Regions from separate parts of the Homo sapiens genome. Here region 2 is linked to region 1. The links come from fine-mapping of genetic effects on gene expression. A gene starts in region 1. The other region holds a variant in brackets. All regions are shown on one strand. Distances are between the middles of the regions. Region 1 holds the start of FRMPD4 (FERM and PDZ domain containing 4). Region 2 overlaps FRMPD4 (FERM and PDZ domain containing 4).

Evidence for each region.
Region 2: its variant is fine-mapped to the expression of FRMPD4 in fibroblasts (GTEx, PIP 0.97).

Annotation. Positions count from the first base shown.
Region 1 is chrX:12,133,584-12,145,534 of GRCh38, forward strand. FRMPD4 (FERM and PDZ domain containing 4) reads left to right here and starts at 4,890. Exons shown (of 17, transcript NM_001368397.1): 1 at 4,890-5,429. The coding sequence starts at 5,389.
Region 2 is chrX:12,406,537-12,418,487 of GRCh38, forward strand. All of the region lies in intron 1 of FRMPD4 (FERM and PDZ domain containing 4), which reads left to right. Among named protein-coding and RNA genes, the nearest start is that of FRMPD4-AS1, 37 kb to the left of the region's middle. The variant G/A (reference allele first, on the strand shown) is at 5,669.

The DNA of each region.
Region 1 (11,951 bases):
CTGACCGAACTAGGGTATTTCGTAAATAATACAAATAAATGAGTTTTCCCTTATTCCTCTCTTTCCCCACCTCCTACATCTAACCCATCAACTGTTCCTATTCAAAACATATCCTGAGCCTGGCTACTTTTCACCACCTCCTTGTCATGTCCTCTCTGAGCTGCTGCCAGCTCTTGCCTGGATTCTTGCAACAGGCTCCTAAATCAGTAGTTTCCCTGCCCTCACACTCACTTCCCTCAAGAGTGGTCATTCAAAACATAAGTCAGATTTGGCCACTTCCATGCTAAAAATCCTCACATGGCTTCCCGTCTCATACCAGCCAGACAGCTGACACTGGCCTACTGTGCCCCATGTGATCTCACCCTTCTTGCCCCTGCAAATTCGCTCACTCTCACTTCATTTAACGCGTTACTCTTCAGTCACAGTGGCTGCCTTCGGATTCTTCAAACATACAATCATCGTTCCTGCCTCAAGGACTCCATCCTTGTTTTATCCTTGCCGTTCCGTCTGCATGGAATGCTCTTCCATATGAATTTTGTGTGGCAGCCTCCTTCTTGTTCTTCATATCTCAGTTTAAATGTCACCTCCTTATAGAAGTCTTCCTGAACCACTGAATAACAAATAGCCACCTAGCCACTCCCTTTCCATCAGAAGAATTTTAATTCTCTGCACATTGCTATCTGCTATTTTCTTGTTCACTACAATTTCTGATTTTGTTGTTTATCATCTACCTCCTCTTCATAAGTTCTATGAGAACAGAAACTTGCCTTGTTGCCTAGTCTATTTCCCAGTGCCTACAGTGGTGCCTGGTACATGGGAGACACTCCATAAATATTTGCTGATTGAATGGATACCTTGCTGTTATTTATTTACTTCTGTTTTCAGGACTGAGACCAGATGGTCGAGATGCTTCAGTCCAGCTGAGAAATGCTTGGGGCTCTCTCTATTGTAACTTGCAGCGAAAGAACCCTCAGCTGCCAACCTATATGGAACATCTGGCCCAATAGCAGATTCCTAACACCAGCTTTAGATAAGGCCTTAAGAATGATGAAGCTCCTCACACTTCCCCCTGAGAATCCCCCGGGGCATAAAAAATGCTACAGCCTAGGGCTTTAGTAACTGCCCAGGCAACAAAGTGTTTGATTTTTAGGCAAAAGTGCCTACCTCTGATTAATCCAAGCGAATGTTGGGCCTCCTAAATAGTCATCTTACAGGCTGAAACTTTTCCTACCAGTACTGCCAAGGCTGCAGACAGCTGTGGAAATCCTTCTAGAGCTAATATTCATGTGCCTCAACTCATATGTAGCCAACTGTAAACTGGTGCCAACTTCAAGTGCTCATTTTGTGTAAGGTAAAGATGTATTATTTCCATTTTACAGCTGAGGAAACTGAGTCTCAGAGAAGTTATAGGACTTGCTCTGGATCTGGTGACCCTGAGTCTTTTATTCATGAGTACTTTCAACAGTGTTTGAAAGTGTGTCTGGTTTTCAGAAATGACCAAATGTCACTTGAACCTAAGTAAAGCAAATTAAGTAGATTCTCAAGGTTGGATAATACAGTTTCCAACTAGTAAATCCCTACAAGATCCAGAAGGGGCCTTAGAGATCATCCAGGTTAATAAGAAAACTTCAGAAAACCACATATGTACTCAGGATCCCACTTTTTTGGCTTTTATTTGTTTTAGGCAGATCTAGTTCATGCTAGACAAACCTATCCTAACCTCTGCAGCACACACCTGGCACAGAGAGGGGACAGAGCTGAGAGACCAACTACTCCAATCTCTGCCCTTCTGCCAAGATGGCTTAAAGATATAAACACTCTGTGTTAGCATGTTTCAAGGGAGCAGCTTTTTCCATTGTTGTATTAATGAGAAACAAAGGAGGAGGGGTGGAATCTCTTTGCTTTAGAAAACAATATCAATCCATTAGAAAACATACTAGATAATTACTATATGAGAGGTGTGTAAAGACCTGTAGAAGTCAGTCATTTCCCTTGGTAGCTATTATGCTGTGGAGAGATGGCATCTGCATCATTCATAACCGTAGCGCACAAATTGGCACAGGGAGAAGGCCAACAGCAAGCTGTTCCAGGTAGACCAGATGTCTCCAAGGGAGGCTGTCTCTCTAGAAGTAAACACAATGTCTATTTCCTGTCACTTTCACTGTTGAATAATTAGATATTTGGTATCTGGAATAATTATTGATAAATAGGGTAATCCTTTTAAAAAGAGCATCCCAACTGTTCTCTTCTCAGAAGGAAGCACTTTTTCAAAACACATTCTCCAAAGGCACTGTTTTATCCCCTTTTCCCAATCACGAGCTGGTCTTGTGCTGCCAGATGTTGACTCAGAGATGAGGGAACGTGTCGGTGGCCACTCTTTTGGGGGAAAGGTAGAAAAGGTGAAGGGGGAAAATAACTGGAGAATGTAAGAAGGCCTTTGTTGCCATCATTAACAGTCAGTCCAAAGGAGGTTGAAGGATGCTGGGGAAGTGGATGGGTGGGGAAAGAGACAGATGTAAGCCACGAAGTCATACACAGATCAGTACTCACTGGGGATGCTTGGCCAGCTTTGGTTTGGCTGTGAATCCAATGGGCATATGATTTGTTCGTTCAACAAATATTTCTTAAGTTCTTTCTACATCTGGGGAAGTGGTCTAGGCATTTGAGATCCATCAGTGAAAAACAAAAGCAAAACAAAACAAAGATCCCAGCCCTTGTGGAGCTCCAGTGGGAGATTCAGACCAAAAAAAAAAAAAAGAAATCCTAAAGATAAAAATAAATTATATAGTGTGCTAGTGGGTGATAAATGCTATGGAAACAAGAAAAAAGAATAAAACAGTTAATAGGGACTCGGAGTCCAGGGTGTGAGAACCTTTTGCAATTTTAAATTGGCTTTCTAGAGGGGGCATTTTGGAAGTGGTATTGGTGCATACATTTGACAGGGTGGAGAAGCCGGCCATGCAGATATCCCAGGAAAGAGCATTCCAGGCTGAGGGAACAACCATTGCAAAGAGCCTAAGGTGGGAAGATTACCTGTAGAGTTTGAAGGATAGCAAGAAGTCCAGAATTGCTGGAGCCCAGTGAGTGTATGTGTGTGAGAGAGGAGGGGCTCGGGGTAGGGGATGAGGAGGGACAGAGAAAAACGGGAGAGGGAAGTGGGCAGTAATAGTTGAGGTAAGAAAGATCAAAGGATACGGGATCTAGGGTCCTGTTGGCCCTTGCAGGAGCGCAACTTTAGCTTGACGGACAATGGGGAGCTTTTACATATTTTAGATCAGACAAGTAGCCTTATGTGATCTACGTTAAAACACACACACACACACACACACACACACACACACATACACACACACAAAACATCTTTTTGTCTGGTATGTTGAGAATAGATTATGGCATAAAAATAAAAGATTTCTAAATATATTGCCTTATATGAAAAGGTTGCGATGAGACTCCAATGCAAAAAAAAGCTTTAAAAATTATAAAGCACAGTGCAGACCCAAACTATAATTATTTTACAAACAATAGAGTTCAAAAGCCAAGGTCCCTCTCGCCCCTTCCGATCCTTGAGTAGTAACTGCGTTCATGCAATTAAACTAGCCTGTTTAATAGAAGCTGCAGGAAAACTGATAACTATGTATTCAAAAACATGTAATTTTATGCCTGAGTTTTAAGTCATTTAGATTTTGCAGATTGCTATTTATTTTATGTTCAGTTTTTGAAATAAATGCTTAAAAAAAACGCTTTAGTACTAGGCTTGAATACTGAAGACTTTAAATATAACAACAGACCAGGAGAGGAGCAGAAGTGTGGGAACTTTAAACCTATTTCTTTCTTAATCCCCTCGGAGAGCTAGACTGGAACACTGGCTGGATCTTCCAACATTTCTGGGGGTGCTCTCTGTTCTTTGCGGTGGCCCTGCCGCCAGGTGAACGCTGCCGGTGGGAGAGCACACACTTAGTGCGGCCAGCTGACCTTCACAGTCTGGGGGGAAATTTTAAAGGATTGTGGAGAAGAGGCCTTGAGACTTCAAGAGGAAGAAGAAAAAGGGGCCCAATGAAGCCTGAGCCTCCCAGGAGGTAGAACTGAGTTAATGAACAGGGCTGATTATCCAAGGTAATTATGTAAAAGAGAAGGCTAGGAGGAGTTCTAGATGGCTGCAACTTGGAGTTTACTCTGCCTAAGGTGAGTGTTTATGTTTCTGTGTTTTTGCTTCTCCGGCAAGGTTTTGTTTTGTTTTGTTTTTTTCTTCCCTGTTCCCTTCACCCAAGGCTCAGTGTGCAAAAGCAGCTCGCTCTGCGTGGCAGACCCCATTCTAATCCTTCTCTTTCCTTAGATTCTGAGCCCGGTTAGAATTAGCCTCCGCATCACGGGCTCCTGGGACCCTCCGCTCTATGCTCCTCGAGGAGGGAGCAGCTGTGTTCATCCCCCTACCCGCAAATGCCTCCGGTTCTTATTTGGCAGACACTCCCGCGGTGCTGCTGTCCAAAGACACACCTTCCCAGCCAGCCCAGTGGTCACGTCTCGCCCCAGCGATTCGGGAGAAGCAGTGGGAACTCTGAGCTCCCCGAATCGAGCCCGCTGCGCCTGGCATCTCCCTTCCCTTCCCCTTGACAAACGACCCAACCTCAATCATCCCTGCTCCTTCCGAACGCTAGTTTTGTTTACGGAGCAAACCGAGGCTTTGAGCAACCTGCGGTTGCACGGCTCTCCTTCGGCTTGGGGAGGGAGGGGTAGCGTTCACAGTTCTCCAGTGTGCCATAGACTGTTAGACCAGATCCTTCAGATCTAGAGGCACACGCAGTGGGTGACAGGAGAGTGCCCCCTCCCCCCGGGCGGGTGGGGGTGGGGAGAGGAGCAGGGACTCGGCTTGGAGAAGGAGGCAGGGAGGCAGCTGCAGTGCTGCGAGGGGTGCGTGCGCGTGTGCCCAGCTCGCCTGCCGTCTCCCGGCTCCGTCTGCGCTCCTCGGTGCGTGGGGCACGAGGGTCCGAGGGCCGGGAAGCCAGAGCAGCGCCTCTCGCCCAGGCCTCGCTTTCTCTGGACGCCCGGCAGTCCCCGGGGCTAGAGCGCACGGGGCGGGGCGCGAGACCCGGGCCGCGCTCCCCGCCCCCGCCTCTTGCGCCCTGCCTGGCTCCCTCTCCATTGAGTTTTCCTGCCTCGGGTGCCTATCAATGGTCCTGCTCGGGGATGCACACGCAGCTCGCGGCCGGAGGGGGGTAGCAGCCGCCGCCTCCAGGTGCAGGTTCTCTCCGGCCGCCGCCGCCACCCGCTGTCGCCGCGACTCGAGCCCCGGGCGCACTGAGGTCTTGGCCATGGGGCTGCGGAGGCTGCTGTTGCTGGCGTGAGAAGGGGCGACGGAGTTGTCGCGCTCGGGGGTCCCCAGCTGCCTGCATGGATGTCTTCAGCTTTGTGAAGATTGCAAAGCTTTCGAGGTAGGGGCTGCGCGGGTTCCGTTTGCACCCAGGGCCGCTGCCGCGGGCAACTTGGTGCCTTATTTTTCGGGAGGCTGGGTAGAGGCAAAAGCTGGAAAGCGCGACGGGGCTTAAGACAAACGAAGTGGCCGGGGGCTTCCACGTTCAACTTATTTCTCACTGGCTGCTGAGGCTTGTGTAGCGGCGGGTGTAGACCACACACAGAGAGGTACATACATGCCCTCACCAACACACCGACATTCACGACAGTTTGTTTTCCCTAAGGAAAAGCCCCAGCGGTGTTTGGGGTCCCATGTATAATTCAGGGCTAAGAGAAGATGGTTGTAATTGCTACTGCTAGGGAAACCCAGAAGTGCTTGGAGCTTGGGTGCCTGCCTTCCAAGCTGCAAAGACCAAAAGTGCCGCCTTCCCCCAACTCCTAAATTACACCTCCACACCTCCACAAAGTCAGCTCCTAGATTGACCAGGTGCTCCCAACGGTAACCTAGATGGCGAAGTCATGTAGATAGAAGAGAAAGACTTTCAGCCTTTTTTTTTTTGGGGGGGGGGTAACTATATTCTTAAGCCTCGAAAGATTTAGAAATTTTCTTCTAAGTGGCCATGTTGTTAAAACAGTAGCTAAAACTAAATCATCGATTCAGACATTTTTGGGTAGTACTGATAAAAGAGGAACATTTCCACGCTTGGGCCGCCTAGGTGTTGCCTGGCCAGAGCACTCCTCCAGGTCTTCTGCCCTGCTTATGCTTCCAAAGTCTTCGTTTGAGCCACAGAGTAAGGTTTGTGCTGCTTGCTATGTGGCATTAATTGGGAAGAGCCCAATAGGAGTGGTCTTAGAAAACCATGCCCAACCTTCTCTGCCCCTGGAGCTCTTTATAGCAGCTACCACCAGGACGTAGGAGGTAGACAGTTGGGTTTTTCCAGGATGTAGCTTAAAAACTTACTTGCAATATGGACAGAATAATCCCAGGTTTTCCTTCAGTCCTGAGTGTCAGAGTGAGATGTGTTGATTGCATCAGGCAGGGATGAGCAGCTTCCAATAGTCAGAGGTAGAAACGTATGTTGACTTTGCTTTATTAAATTACATTAGACCACTTCAGAAAGGTTCTGTTTGGATGTTGCCATTCTCTCCGACATCTACAGGTCTTTGTTCTGCCTGCCCATCTCCACCTTCCCTTTCTACTAACATGGGTCAGTCTTCATGCCACTAGCAGATTTCCCCAGGCAGAAAGGCCCAGTGCAGCTTACTCTAAGTAGACTGGAGATACGCAGTTGATGGGTAAATACCTGTGTCTTAGAGCAGCTCAGGAAGAGGTGTTGTCCTGCAGATCAGAAGACTGATGTGTTAAGCAGTGGATGATTGTGGTGTGGCCAATTGTTTGCTTTCAAGCTGATCTCATAGAGGGCCATTGCTTCACACCACTATTCTATTAACTTCCTGCATGCTTCTGCCTAGGGCTAGTTTCTAAACAGCTGTCAAATATTGAACCATGGTTGGGAAGCAGCTGTGTGCAAGTTTAGAGGCTAAGTGGTACCCTCCGTGTGATGGACAGAGATACTGCTAAAGGGAAAGGGAAGTTCAACCAATAGTATAGTTCAAAGTAACCAGGATACTTTTTGGTGGCCTCAGATGCTAAAAACAGTTTAACAAAACATCTAGAGCCTCGATTTAGTCCTTAAACTTAGGAACTTTGGAGAGGACAGTGTCATGTGTCAGTGAAAAGATGTTTCATATTCTTTTTACTAAATTCTAGGATGCCTACATGATATTCACAAATCTGAGTTTTTGCAAAACTCAAGCAAGGCTGTGGGGAGAGTGGTATCTTATTTTAAAGAGAGTTTAAAATTTAGTAAATGAGTGTGAGTTTCACTTTCTATCCTTAATGTGATCCAGTAGAGTGTTTATTCTAAAGACAGAAGGTGCAAATGTTCTGAGCTGATGTGCCGATTAAGAAATCTTCCATCCATAGAATTCTTCTTTTTCTTTAGTGTGAGCCCGAGGATGGTCCCCGTGCTGAGATAGAAGTACCTTTAGAGGGTCATCAGCATGTAAAAACACATGTTTGCAGTTGCTTGTTTCTGCCTTGGGAGGAAGAAAGTCTTGTATGTGTTTTAAACACTGTTACAGAAAGCAAGTTCTTTTCTCAAAGGTGAAGTATGAAAGTGCTTATACTGCAGGATTTTCCTGATTTCAGAATGGATAATCTTCCTAAAGGATTTAGCTTTGATCAGCATGGTTACTTCAGTGCTTAAAATTCTCTTGGTTTAGAGGCAAACACATGTAGTTACCCTGGGTACCTGGCCTTACCTTTGGTTCCTACAAACTTGAGCTTCTAAATGTTAATTCAGAAGGCATATCTTGGAAGTGATATTTGCTTAGTGTCCTATCTGTGAGTAAAGACAGTGTAATTACAGAGAATTCCAAGAGAATATTATTCGACACTGGAATAAATAAACTGCATATTTTGACTTTTTAGAGTGTCTACATTTAACTATTCGTTTCCAGAATCTATACCCTTTTAATCGTGGGAAAAATCAGAATTGACAGTGCCCCTCAATAACCCAGTACCATTAAAAAAAAATTGCTGCCAAGTGTTGGAATTGCTGGTAAGTAGTTGGCACCCTTTACATCATCAGTTAGAGTTATGACCCTTGATTGCATCCTTCGTGGGTGGCACAGTGTGTCATGGTTCTATCTGAAGATGGTTTTTCCCGTTCTTCTAATTTTCTGGTTCTTAAACTGCTTGATAGTTTACATGCAGTTTTACTTCACTGTTTCCTTGGTAACAGTTCTATATTATTTTCCATCCTTGTAGATGAGAGCATTACAGATGATTGCCTTATAAACCAGTAATAGTATAAAAACAGGCATATATTTTTATTGTTACTGCTCTTTGTATTGACTATTTTATTTGTAAAGCAGATGCATTCTTTCAAATGTTTATAGAAGAATGCAGTCCAGTAGAAAAACATATGATTATGCCCCTTTTGCCAGAGGGAGATGATTTGAGATCCAAAACTCATAGGGATGTTATTAAATTGAGTGATATGTTCATAGATTAAGTCCCTGATTTGGCTTCTTTTCTTTAAGCAAAACGGTAGACTTGATGATAATGATTGAGTCCCCACTGTTGATATGATGATTTCTTATAGTAGTAGGTAAATTTGGGGAATGCTTTACTTTGCATTTTCTTATAGTTGCATGGGTTATTTTGTGGTATATAGCAGTGACTAATATCTAATATTAGAATGCTAATTTTCTTACAAGTATCTTATATTTGAGGAAAAATACAAAATACATATGTATAGTTTCCTTAGATTTTTATGTCAAGTCCATTTAGATACTACTAAACTTCTGTCTTTTACCTTTATCTTATTCAGAATTAAATATTTCCCAGGGAAAAGGGGAAGTTAAAGAAGTAATGCAAAAGGTCAGGGTTTTTCCCATATCCCCTATTTTTACTGAGTAATTGTATTAATATTGCTGATAATAGTGAGCTCTGGAGGCTAGCAATGAAAAAACCCCAAAGACTCTGGATTTGAATTTTATTAAAAATGCTACTTGCTCATCTTCTGAATCCTTTCTAAGTTCTGCTGATTTTTGTGACTGTCAGGAGGTGAAATGATGAACAGTTTCATAACAGAACTAGATTCCTGTTTTAGGAATATTTAACTCTAGTTTCCCAAGAGTTGCTAGTTTGAAGCTGTGAAAGTCTAGTCGCTCGCAGTTCTGGGAAGAAGGCGTCTAGGTCAGGCTTTGTACCATTTCAAGCATCTCTCTCTCTCTCTCTTATTGTCTGGGGCAAGTGAGTTTCACCTTCTTGCTATCAGAATTTGGTACAGACTGACAGCTGCAGTGAAACTTACTTGTACTTTAAATGCATGACCTGGAAAGTCTCACTTTCTGCTTATGGTCCTTCCAGCTGTTCATTCTCCCCCTTTACATACACATACACTGTTCAACTTTAGTACTTTGTTATTTCATTTGAGGTTAACCGTGGAAGTTTAGCTGTAAGAGAATGTACATTATTGGTGAACTAGAAATGTATCTTTAAGGAATGAACTTGAAACCACTGGTTTCACACTTGGCTCAATAAGAAAACTCAAGACCGTTTAAAATCTTTGTTTAAGCATACCGTCCTGAAATCTACCACTGTTACCATCAAATGATCTTTAATCTTGAAAGCTAATCATAGCAGGAAAAGAAAATTATGAATAGGCTAAAACAGGGGTTGGCATACTGTGGCCTATGAGCCAAATCTGGCTTGCTGACTGTTATGGCATAGCCTGTGAGCAAAGAATGGTTTCTTTATTTTTAAATGGTTCAAAAATATCAAAAAAAGAATAATATGAAATTAAAATTTCAGTGTCCATAAATAAAGTTTTATTGGAACACATGTCCATTCATTTATGTATTATCTATGGCTGCATTTGCCTGACAACAGCAAAGTTGAATAGATGCCACAGAGACCTTATGGCCTACAAAGCCTAAAATATTTACTCTCTGGCTCTTTACAGAAAAAGTTAACTGACCCCTGGGTTAAACAATGCCTTTTTCCTGTTTTCTCTTCTTTATCATTAGCAGCACACATGTGGGCACACACATGTCAAATCGAGCATATTATAATAAATACTTGAATTCACTGACCCCTGGGTTAAACAATGCCTTTTCCTGTTTTCGCTTCTTTATCATTATCAGCACACATGCGGGCACACACGTCAAATTGAGCATATTATAATAAATACTTGAATTCACTAATGCACATTACCAGTTAATATAGACCTTATCTTTATTGAAACTTCTGATCTCAAATTACTTCTTGAACTGTTGGAAACTGACCATTAGAAGTGGACATAATTGTCCTACTAATTTGTTGCACTTGGAAAAATTATGCATGCTTATTCTTTGGTCACTAAGTTGACCTGATATTTTTGGGGAGCTGGAGAGTTGCTTGTTAAGGTGATGTTTGCCTTCCATAAATATCCAGTTCAAAATGTATGGAAAAAGAATGGGTGATACTACTTGTATAGCCTCAACCAATGTGTGCTGGTGAACTGATAATCAAGTCAACAGGAGAATGCCTAGTATTTCCTTACAGTACACTTGAGCCATCTGGTCCTAATGGCTAATGACCTTCACTAATCTGTTTCCAAATGGAAATAAAACCAGATAAGTGGATTTAGTTGTAGTCAGAGGAATGGAGGTAGGCTGTATCAATTTGGAGTTGAGTTTAATCTAACTTTCCTATGATTTGACTGAGAGCATTATAATGAGAAATCATAGACTACCTTTAGTTCTTTACAGCAAAAACATATATCAAAAGTATGCTGCCTTGCTTCTGAGTAATTTAGGTCATTATGTACTTAAGCTCTGAAAATTATCTTGAAGAAATCTAAGCCTTAGTTTTAGATAACAAAGTTAACATTCCCATTTTTTTTTTTTTCCTGGCAAAGAGATGAGAAGGGTTTTCTGCCAGAACTGTTCTTTCAGAAATATATTTTCAAGTATGGTTTACAGAATTTGGCATAAGATAAATAGTCTATACTAAATAATTAGTGAGTGAAGTCATATACAATTCATTCTAACATTTGTTGCAAACAAATTGTCATATTTGTTTAGCTGAACAATTACCATGTCAGTACTTCTTTATTGAATATAACGGAATACAATGTACATGTTAAAAGTAAATAGCCTGCTCTTGGACTTGGTCTCAGAGAATAAACTTTTATTTCTGTTTTTACATTTGAAGTATATATATATTATATATATAAAATATAATATATATATTTGGTGATTGATGGTTAAAAAGTCATCAACTTGTATTTCCAAGGAGTCTCTGTTTTACTGCTTTAAGCTCAATAAGCAAAGTTATGATGATATTGAAATGGGTTTTTATAGATGTCAGTAAGTTTTTATTTTAGAAAGTCTTTTTTGAAAGCTAGGAAAACACAATCATTTCTATGAAAGAAATGTTTCCAAAGTTTGAAAATGAAAAGTAATTTCCCTGCAATTACAATTTACTATAGGGTTTTAATTTTTATTTTGGTTATTTTTTATAGGCTTCACAAGTTTTATGAGATTTGCTTAATTGAAAATAAGAACATGATTACCTGACAAAGATGAGGTTCAAAGAAAGCAGTAGGCAAAAGTTCATAAAATTAATGGTAAAATTTTCCTAATGAATGTAGGAATGAGTGTATTTTTCTATTGAACTGGCACAGTTATTTATCTGGTCAGAGACTGGTGTGGGGGAGAACACGCGGCCATCTGGCTGATTCAAGGCTGTTGTATTGATTCAACATTGGATAACATACTGACCATGGTGATTTTACAATGGTTCCTGTAACTGGAGTCCTGGATATTTGTCTCTTTTGAAGTTCACGATCCAAGTCACCGGTCTTTACCCTAGTACAGGAGCAGTTAGCAGTCTCAGCTATACAGTGGTGGAGTCTGGAATTAGTTTTGGTGTAAATCCCAAACATGCCCAACTGAATTGTGGCTCAGGGCGATGTCCTGCTTCATGG
Region 2 (11,951 bases), 270 kb after region 1:
GGTAGGTTAGTATTTGCCTTCGGGGAAGATATGCTGAACCCAGTGTAACTGATATGGGCAATCCATATCAGAAGTCCTCTTCTCAGGTTTACAGGTAGTTACTTAGCTCAGAGGCTATTTCTCAACTTTAGTCCCATCTAACTCTGCATTGTAGCACTCAGTGAAGCTCCAACCAACCATGAGCTTGGATTGGAATAAGCCCCTTTGTTGCTGCAATTCTATGTGTACTCAAGTGTGGTGCAAATAAGTAAAATATGGCTTATGTGTTAATTTCCTATGGCTGCTGTAACAAATTACCACAAATGTACTGGCTTAAAATGACAGGAATTTATTGTCTTACATTTCTGGAGGTCAGAAGCCCAAAGTGGATTTCACTGGGCTAAAAGCAAGGTGTCAGGAGGGCCAGTTCCTTCTGGAGGCTCTAGGGGAGAATACATTTTCTCACCTTTTCCAGCGCCTAGAGGCTACCAATGTTCTTTGCCTCATAGCTCCAAATCACTCAGACCTCTGCTTCGATCATCACATCTCCTTCTCTAACTCTCACTCTCTTGCCTCCCTCCTTGACTTATCAGGATCTGGTGATGGCACTGAGCCCACCTGTATACTCTGGGATCATCTCCCCATCTCAAGATTCTTAGTTACATATGCAAAGTCCCTTTTGCCTTGCAATGTACCATATTTACAAGTTTAAAGGTTAAAATGCAGACATCTTTGGGGGCTCTTATTCTGCCTATCACAGCTTGAAAGCGACCAAATATGACATCAATTGTGCTTGATGCTGGAACTGGTCACATACTTTATTCTATTACTAGCCGTGGAACATGCCACAGAGCTTGCGCACCAGAGTCAAAGGACCTGAGTTTCAGTTCTGGCTCCACCATCTACAAGCTGTGTGGACATGGGAAAGTCACTTCGCCTTGCCTCAGATTCCTCTATCTGCAAAATAGGCATTCCAATAACACCTCCCTAGTAGGGTGACTGTTGAGGGCTATAAATGAAATAAGGTACTTAAGGCAGTAAACCTAACACCTGACATATAATAATTGTTTAAGATACACTAGCTATTGATGTTGTCACTCATGGAGCTGTTACAAGAATTAAACAGGGCAATTCATAGGTCAGTAGACTTTTTCTGTAAAGGGCCACATAATACATATTTTTAGCTTTGCAAATCATGTAAGCCGTCACAGCTACTTAACTTTGCTCTTATAGAACAAAAGTAGCTATAGACAATATGTACATGAGTGAGTGTGGCTGCATTCCAATAAAACTTTTTTTGTAAATATGAGCAGCAGGACAGATTTTGTGTGCACAGACCATAGTTTGCCAATCCTTAATCTAGAATATTGTGATTCGGGCCTGACTATATATTGTTGTCGACAGCAAAGCTTTTAAAAAATGATAATAGTATATCTTCGTTGGTAGGCAGGTCTATGCAAACCTACCCCCAAAGTTTGAGGTAGCAGAGAGACAAAAGAAAGAGGCTAACATATCCAGTTTCTTAGAAAGAGACATTTAATAGGCACTCACAAACGGAAGCCATGTCTGTGTCTCGAGTGGTGGCTAGACAAGATGGTGGATCCCTATGCCATTATCTCCAGACCCAGGGCTTATATACCATAGGGAAAGGGTGATTCGGAAGGGATATGTAGGACCATCGAAGTATAATAACATCAAGGTTGTTTGACCTAAGGGTAGGACTTACATACTAGATGTGTTTTCTGTTAAGAAGCAATTTTTACTTGCTTTGGTTCCATCCAAGATGGAGCTGCTTTAGCCTTTACAATATCACATCTAATTCTCAGTTTTCTTTTAATTAAAAATATAATTACTCTTAGTTTTCATTTCTGATTTCAGATTAAATGCCAAAAGACACTGCTTTGTACATATTAAGTTTTCAATTGCACTTTGTTGACAAATAAAACAATACCTGGCTTCACCTCAGCCCCAGTGAATCAAAATTCCTGGGGGCAAGGCCTAGCTAGGCATTTGTTTTTGTTTGCTTCTCAGAACAAGAGGAGGGGCTGCCACATACTGGGCACTTGATCAGTATCTACTGAGTATGAGTAAGGAAATGTGCAACACGCCATCAGCACAGCACCCAGCCCATACTGAAGCTCAGTAAATGGTGCCCAATCATTTGGGGTCTTTTGATTGCAAAGAACAAAAACCCAAACTGGCTAATTTGGCCAAAATAGGAAATTATTAGAAAGATATGCAGGCACTCAAACAATTCAAGGAACAGATGTATCAGCAAGGACAAGAACAAGGGCAGTTTGCAAGGGCTGACCTTGTTCAGCAACTCAGGAAGGCTTTGCAAGGATTCTTCAGGAGGATAATGACATCAGCCTTTTTCTATCTTTCTTTTCTTCCATTAGAGAGAGAATATCCCCCCCTTGGCTAGTAGAGAGTGGAACACCCTGACTGGCAAACCTCACCTTCACATGACTAACAGGGAAGAGTTTGTATCCAAGGCAAAAAATTGAGAGGTCTTACTAGAAGAAGGGGATAGAGGCAGTGCACTCAGCCATTGATAACTGGTTGTTGTTTTTGTTAAGACAGCTTGTAATGAGGTAACATAAAAAAGTACTTCCCACAACAGAAGGCATGTAATGGATGCTCAAGCCATTGCTCTCTGGTGGATTTCAATACAGCACCTTTTTCAAAAATATAGCAGCGGTTCTCAATCGGGTGATTTTACCATCTTTGTGGAGACCTTGTTGGGGGCAGGTCACTACTGGCATCTAGTGACTAGATGCCGAAGATGCTGCTGAACACCATATAGTAAAGTATATGAGCATTTGTTATGGTGCTGCAGTTTTCATTTATTCTAGCTAAAAGGGTTGTGCTTTCTCCAGCTGCTAATCTATTTATCTGTGTGCCCCGCACTCTTACTTTAGAGATCAAGTTTGATGGAAAGGAGGCACATTTGACTGTGTTCCTTTAATTGAAGACAATAGAACTTTGGGGAGATTCTGGAGTTGAAATTAGAAGAGAATAAAGCAAAGATGTAAGAACCTAAGGACACATTTCTGAAATTTACCCCTATGAGATTACTTCAGAATTTAACTTGCTAAAAATAGATGAGCAGAAGAAATGAAATTTGAGAACATTCTTGTTAATGAAATGCAGAAGAATAGTTTAATGGTCAAATAGAAATGATTTCAAAATAAATCCAGTTAAAACTAATGAGTTTTATGTTTTTCAGTTTTACTGAAGGAATTAGTCCATAAAATGAAAACCATCATTAGCAAAAATCATTTGGTATAATGACATTTCCGTTACTGTTCGTGGGGGTAGGGGCAAAAAGGTACCAAGTAATATCACCTTTGAATTCTGGTTTTTATTCTAAATTTTATTAATTCTAAAAGGTGCTCATTAAACATTTTTCTTCCCTTTTTTCTCAAGTATTCAATAGTCCTACAATATGTGAATATCACCCCTTTTTTCTTTCCTGAATTTTAGGAAAACAGGGTTTTAAAGTATCTTAGTGAAGCTTTATGTCAGTGCTGATTTGAACTTCCAATTTAAACTGCAACCTTTTTTGTGAGTGGGGAGAGCATCAGTCAGATTAATTGTTTTATCAGTTTCTGACACTTTATCATCACTGATTATTGAAGACTTCCTGATGTGGCTGAGTAACTCATTCATTCCCCTTTATCCCCCTATGCCACTCCCATTTACACGCCCAGGTAATTTTTCTACTGAGTTTAGTGTGAATATTTCTGTGTGCATTCGTTTTTGCAAGGGTGTATTATTGTTTTACACACATTCATTTCAATTTGCATAAATCTTTTTGTGCTATATGTTTCATTGTGTGTTTTTTCTGAGCCTGGGGATGTTAAGATCCGTCTGTGTTGCTCTGTGTATTTCTAATCTGTTTTTTTTCCAACTGCCACCTCATGCTCCATGGTGTGCTGCAAACTTGGTTTCTGAGAGATAACCACTTTGCACCAGTAACTTGCAGTTCTGCTTTTGCTCCTTTTATTATGGAGTCATAAAAGCGTAATGAAAGAAAGAGCTCCTAGCTGTGAGTAGCAGCTAAAATGCCAATTTCAGGTCTGTCAAAATTGATCCTGCCCACAGTCCTCTAAAATGCTCTTACTTTTAACCCTGCTGAAAGAAAAATCTCTTTTCTTAACCCCCAACTCTTCCTAAGGCTATTTAGCTTCTAATTTTGCTGACGCGGTTACTTCCACCAAGTACCACTTAAATATTAAAGTATAAGTAGTTGCCGTTCCTTCCTTATTACCTTTATCAGACCCTCTTCATCTTATCACGGACTTAAAGAAATGGTTTTTGAATTGTCCTCTCTGTCCTCATTGTCTCTTCTAGACTTAGAGTTCTTTTAGACTTAGAGATATGTAAAAATCATGTATTACTCGTGACCATATGTAAAAACGGATATATAAGCAAAATAGAATTGTTAAGGTATTCCTAAAACTTCATCGCATTCAGAACCCCTTCTGAGTGCCTTTTTGACTCAGAATCACTGATGTCCACTTTTGTTCACATAGCAGTTGTTCATACAACTGTTCAAACAACTGTGCCATCAAAAACATTGGTGATGCAGCATTCTTAGGAGCTCTAGGAGTTCCCACTATTGTCTCTGAGATTTTCTTCCAAACTCCCAACACCCACTCTTCAAGTTTTGACTCTGGGACTTTTCTTGCTTAGCCTGAGATAAGCCACGCTTTTGTAAGTATCTTAGTAGCACATGGCTACTATTTTCCTGTCTTAGGTCCCGAAAGCATTTGTCCCTTTGCTAGCAGATATGAAAATGTGTTCACTTCTTCAGCAATGAATATTTGCTTTGCTGATATGCAATTCACACCCCACTGCTCTGTTTCCACGCTTTTCTGTGTACCAGTAACTTTCCATTTCAATATTGAATCATGATGTAATCTTTTGGAAGACAATTTAAATGGGATTTAAGCTAAGCATTTGTAGTATCAGCACTAGACGTAATTCAGTTGAGGTGAGGACCATATAAATAGCAATGAGTACATTGTTCACACTTGTGCAGGACAAACTGTTGCTTTGTGCAGAGCAATTTAAAACACCATTGATTATAAGACATCCTGTTGTTAAAGATGCTAAAGCGTGGGAAATGTGCATCTTGTAAAAGACGAATGCAGAGGTAGGTACTCAGGATGCAATATGGTGGCTCCATAGTCCATCCGAGACCTGAGCTATTTCTGCCCTCTGTTATTGCATCCTTAGCACATGGCTTCCATCGTCAGTGTCACTGCATGGTCCAAGATGACCTAGTAAGCTCCTGACATCATATCTAGGCAGAAATGAAGGAAGTCAAAAAGGGCAAAAAGGCCAAGGGTCTACAACTCACTGGATACCACTGACTTGAAGGGAGGCTGCCTGGTAACTACAGTCTTTTACTTGGGCAAGTTTGTCCCCTAGGAAAAAACCTGGAAGAAGGAGAGAATGTCTGCTGCGTAATCAACTAGGAGTCTCTTCATCATATCCTTTTGAAAGCCTCAATTCCTGTGCAGCCTGATTCACAGGCCACTTCAGCCTAATCATGTGATGATTCAATGCATAATGGTTTGTGACAAATTTTAGCATTTTGCTCTTACCATTATGTGTGATTCAAAAGTAAGCACAAATCTATAATAATTGGTATTTAATGTGACTAATTCACTTTTCCCTA[G/A]TGAGTCTACAGATTCCTTGAGCAGATCTGTCTTCTAAACCTTAGTTACTTCTCCCACACAACCACCTACCCCATTGCCCATTGTCTGAATTATCTTACACAAAACAAATGCTCCATACATGGATTTGACGTCATCTTGCTTCTGTGGCCTCAATAAGTGATTGCTGCTTCCAGATGATCAGTATCTGAGGTTCCCCCTTGGTAGCCAATGAGGAATTTCATAAAAGCAGCAGCTTGAGAAGAGGACATTTTTAGAGTTTGCTTATCTCCTTTGGGAAACTCTTAATCCATATTCTGGCAAGCATCAGGATACTTTTAGGAGTGATGTCTAGTACTTCTTAACTGACTTCCTAAGATAATCACTTCTGGATAAAACACCTCTATAGCATGCAGATTAAATAAACTCAGCCACAGCCTGTTGTGAGATTCTTAGGGCCATGCCTGATAATGGCAGCAAAGGTAGAGGCATGGATTTTTCTGAGAGTAAAGACTCAGTGGTTCCTGGGAGAGGAATTTGTGTTTGTGGTTGGTGGTGGTTTGCACTTCATCTCATAGGCACATAGTGTACAAAAGCAAATAACTGCTGATTTCTCAGTCTGAGCCTTTCTGGTTGAATCTGAATCATCTTGAGTATGAGCATCAAATGTTATAGAACAGCTTTTGTATCGGGAACATCAACAAGGGTCCTGGTAGCAGGACATAGACATAAATATCTAATAGCATTGGCCAATGCCTCCATGGGTAGTAAAAATAATAATACTGATAGTCATAGTAAAAAAAAAAAACACACATTTATGGCACTGTATGTGCCATGCACTTTATGGACATTAATTTGTGCAGCCCTGGCCACATTTCTAGGGCTACACCACATCATTGTATGCTAGATGACTTCCAGCAGCCAGTCTCTGCATCTCGGAGGGATTTTTCTGAAACTGTTTAAAGCCGGTATGCTTTTGTCTGGGAGCACTTTAAAAATGATTGACATGAGTCGGTATATAGATATCCCAGTTCCTTTGCTCCTCAGATGGGATATTTCAGACATGTGAGTTTTATACTATTCCCAGAATTTCCTGGCAGGATTAAGCTCCAGTCACCCAGTATGGTAGCTGGCTGGATAATCCATTCTTTATTGACTGTTTGTTTTCTCTTCCCAGCATAGTTTCCTTACCCTTGCACAGGAATCTTTGTATTGGGGTCTCCTTCTAGGGAAATCCAAACTAAGACAAATATTAACATCAACCCCGTGAGTTAGATATGATCATTACATTTATTTTTGCAGACAAGGAAATTGAAACATGCAAAGGCAAAGGAAGAGGCAGAAGTGTTCAAACCCACGTTGTGAGTCTGGTTTGAGAGCCTGCATTCTAGCTACACCAAGTAAATGCTACAGGAGCTAAGTGAAGGAGTGCACTCTGATGGAGAACAGCTGGCCCAGTGGTCTATAGATTCAGTTACTTTTCTAAAACAAGAATGTCAGGTCCAATGTACAAAGAGAACGTGTTATACTGACTATTGCATTCATGACTAGGTTCCTGGAACATTGTGGGGCAGCCTTTAAATGTGCAAATTCTTGTGTTTGAGGACCTGGTGTGCCTACCAATTAAACCACTTGGAAGGTTGTTTTAAAATCTGGTGCCAATTTGGGGATGTTCAGCCCTTCCAGCCAACAACCCTCCAGAATTGTCAGCAATCTAAAAGGCAATATTTCAGTCTTCTATTTCTTTCAAATTCATTTAGTGTCTAGGTGATAATTTTTTTCAATTAAAGCCCATAGGGCTATGGATTTACTGTTATGAGATGGTGGCCTTCCCTGTTAAACCAGTGTTGGTCTGTGTGACTATAAATAGGGATTTCCACAGTTTTATATATCTTGGCTAAATGAAAGGAATTTAAATGTTATTGCTACAAAGCATTCTTTCAGAAGCACTTAGTGATCATTTAATATGCATTGCTTCTACCTTTCACATTAATATCCTCATGCAGTAAATCAGATAGGTCCTCACTAATCCTATCCACACAACACACTATGGTTCATTAACAGATTCCTATCAGTGTAACTTTGATCTGCCCATTTTCAATTTTTGAGTTGTCTACTTTCTGGCAGATTACAGTTCAAAAGGTCTATCATTGATTCAACATGAAATTTCATTATATTTGAATCAAAGACTCATTGGAGTGACTTAAAAAGCTTTTTATGAAGTGAAAAAGTTGTTTCTTAGCCTCAGTTAATTTATTTTGTTATGTTATTTGATCCCAAAGTTCACACAAAACTAATTAAGTCTCAATTCAACAATGATATCATCCTGAAAATGCTTTGTGTCAGTATGCAGATGCTTGAGACGTATTTTTATATTCTTCTATTACGGACAGGACTAAGGAATTCTGGAACCCAAGGTTCTGCTTATCTTAGGTTTCGGAGAGCCATTAGTATATACAGGCCTTGAAAGCCTTCATCATGGGTTGGGATTTTAGAGAAGAGGGAGCCCAAAAATAATGAAAGAGCAACTTCAGTAGAAGAGAGAGGACCTGACATTTATTGAGAACTCATTATGTTCTGAACCTTATGGTGGTGCTTTACATATCACTACATCTTTCCCCCAACTACAGAGAGAGATTAAGTCATTTTCCCAAGTTGGTTACAAGAGAGACTTTTTCAAACACAATTCTGTCTGACTCCATAGTTCTACTTTTACACGTGATCACTACACTGCATTGAAAGCTTCAATACTAAGTGGTAGAGTTTTTCTTTTGTGGAAGGATGGGAGCTGATCATCTTTTTGGTGGTCCTTTAGATAACACCATGAAGGAAATTGTCTAGAGTTCAGGCTGCTGCTGACATTTTATCTAGGTGGTGAGCACTACCAAGATAAGGAGGGTGTTGAGGGAATTGCATTTGGGTCCTGGTGTTCCATGTAAGCCATTCTAGATGACATATGTAACTCTTGGCTTACCCAAGATTAATTTAACATTATTGATTCTTAGTTGATTTGTCTCCCTTTGGAATCATCGTGGAGGCACATAAATCCTGAGACTAAGAGGGTCTTCGTTGTAAGTACAGCCCTACTGAGCATCTCTGGAGGTGGCCAAAGTTGCATCAGAAAAGCAGTATTGCTGGGCAATATATGTTGTTTTCAAAAAGATAGTCCTGAGCCCTGCAACCCTTACCTCCTCCATCCATCCTCTCCTCCCCAGTTGGAAAAAAAATCTCATTTCTTTAGTTCTTAGTGTGAGGAAAGCAATCTGATTGATATATTTGAAAAAATATGATTAAAGGATTTTGCACCAGAATTCATCTTCCAACACCCCCTTAGGTTTTTCTATCTCCTTTACTGTTTTAGTTTTGACAACAATAATAGGGGGGATGAGATTGATTCACAAGGCTCTCACCAATACTAAAATTGTATGACTAACACCCAATTGCTATTTAAATATGATTATTAATATTATTAAAGACTTGGGATTATTTCCTGTGTTGTGTTTGATTATAATGCCCAGCATTATACATGATATATCCAGAGTCTTCCTGGTTTATTGCTCATGTAGCAAAATGCTGCCTCCATTGATCAGGATTTGGAAGAATGTTGGTGATTATCTCCTGAGAATAGTGTATTCTTTCACTTTGAAATATGTTTCTAACACTGCTGTTTACGGTGATTCTGATTATTTCAAGGCCATGGTATATTTGTATTATTTGCGATTATCAGCTGATGCTGAACTTTCAGAAAATTTGCTAATTATCAAGAATTCTTCATGACAATATGAGACCTTTGGGCAGCACATAAGATAATTTTAAAGTGAAAGAACTAGTCCGTCTCCTGCAAAATGATGCAATGCCAAAAGCAGGCTGTTAAGGAAATGCTAACATTTAGTGAGCATCTATTTTGCTCTGAATGTTTCCTTTCCTTCCCTCCCTCCCTCTTTCCTTCCTTCTCTTTCTCTATTTTATGTTTCTTTTTCTCCTCCCTTTCTACCTCTTCCGCCCTTCCTCCTCCTTTCTTCCCTTTCTCCTTCCTTCTTTTTTCTTTCTTTCTTTTTTTGGATATAAATAGTGATTGAGCAAGGACCACAAAGCAGCTTTCTCTCCTCCTTAAATTCCTTAAAGGAAAGTTTGTTCTTAGAGGGGCATGGCAGATTTCCTAATGAGCATGCCCTCACCTGGGCTTCCTGGCCATCAGTTTCTACTTCCACAGCAGTTGTGGGAATCCATTGTTACTTTGTTAATTAACAACTTGTATGGTGTAGCCTTTGAAGGCAGGGAGCTACTTCTTAAACACAGTTCTATTACTCTCTAATTTGTGGCATTAATAATCCGTTCTTTTTCGATTTATGTAAGATCTTTTCCTCTTAATAGTTGTGGCATTTTCTCTGAGATAAATTTTCATAAGACTCAATTCCAAGTTGTGATTTTCAAAAACAGGAGTCGTGTGGTCGAAGGATATTTCAACTTGTGTCTTATGACTGTCCTTCATTTAGCCTTTTGCCTCTTTAGAGATGGGACATATGATGAGAGCTGATTTGTTTCCCTTGTGGGCAAGGAAAAACATTTTTGAAGGTATCTAGCATGTTAAAAATCAAAAAATGCTTCCTCTGTGTCTTTGTCTGGTTGTACCTTTCCTTTAGCCACTTTACAAAGGAAGTCACACCATACATTTTGTCTGTCTTTCTTTAAAATCCTTTATTTTGGGAACACCAGAAAAAAAATTTTAGAAGGTATTCTCTCATCTTTGCTTAATCTCTTTCCTTAGTCATCCAGAGACTATTCCTACTTAATTGAAAAAATTCAATTTAATTTATAGATAAGGATAATACCTTTGAGATTTAAAGGCTCGGCTCAGACCTCTTCCGGGAGGGCGTGTCTGACTCTTATGTGTTCTATAGCATGAGTGCATACTCTAATATTTCTTCAGTCGATTCATTTATCTCTTTATACATCTGCCATCCCATCAGCCTATAAGCTACTTTTTGCATTGCCATCAGATACCACCATACTGGACACAGTTACACTAGTATCACTTCAAAATGTTGCTAGATATTTCTATTTAATATATTAACCAAGGAAGCACACATATTTCTATATAATAAATTTAGTTTTGGCCCGGTGCGGTAGCTCACGCCTGTAATCCCAGCACTTTGGGAGGCTGAGGGGAGTGGATCACCTGCGGTCAGGAGTTCTAGACCAGCCTGGCCAACATGGTGAAACCCCATCTCTACTAAAAGTACAAAAATTAGCCGGGTATGGTGGCAGGCACCTGTAATCCCAGCTACTTGGGGGGCCAAGGCAGGAGAATCACTTGAACCCAGGAGGTGGAGGTTGCAGTGAGCCAAGATTGCGCCATCATACTCCAACCTGGGGGACAAGAGCAAGACTTCATCTCAAAAAAAAAAAAAAAAAATTAGTTTAAAAATTTGATAACTTTATTATCAGTTTTTTTTATTATCTTGATGATCTATTATCAGTGTAATTCATTTCCTTTGTAATTCTATGTGCTTTTATTCATTTTATTCATTTAAAAACATTGTTCTGGCCAGGCACGGTGGCTCAAGCCTGTAATCCCAGCACTTTGGGAGGCCGAGGCGGGCGGATCACGAGGTCAGGAGATCGAGACCATCCTGGCTAACACGGTGAAACCCCGTCTCTACTTAGCCGGGCGTGGTGGTGGGCGCCTGTAGTCCCAGCTACTCAGGAGGCTGAGGCAGGAGAATGGCATGAACCCAGGAGGCAGAGCTTGCAGTGAGCCAAGTTCGTGCCACTGCACTCCAGCCTGGGCGACAGAGCAAGACTCTGTCTCAAAAAAAAAAAAAAAAAAACAAACAACAACAACAACAAAAACATTGTTCTGAGAAGGGGTCTACAGGCTTCACCAGACTCATGGGGCTCGTGACACCGAAAAGGTTCAGAACCCTTGCTGGAATAACGTGTTCTAAAATTCAGAAACACTTCAAAAAAGTTTGAGAGGATGATTTTACAGCCCCTCAGTATGGCTGTATGGCTGTCCACTTACATTGACTATAATTCCCTTGCCATCACCATAGAGACAGCTTGTGGACTGGCTAGTGCATGAAAGAGCAGAAATTGGGTGACACTGAGCTATATTCTAGGCCCAGCCGATGACTCAGGGATTTGAGCATCCATCAGTGTTTCTTTCTTTTTTTTTTTTTTTTTTCTTTTTTTGAGATAGAGTCTCGCTCTGTTGCCCAGGCTGGAGTGCAGTGGTGCAATCTTGGCTCACTGCAACCTCCACCTCCTGGGTTCAAGCAGTTCTCCTGCCTCAGCCTCCTGAGT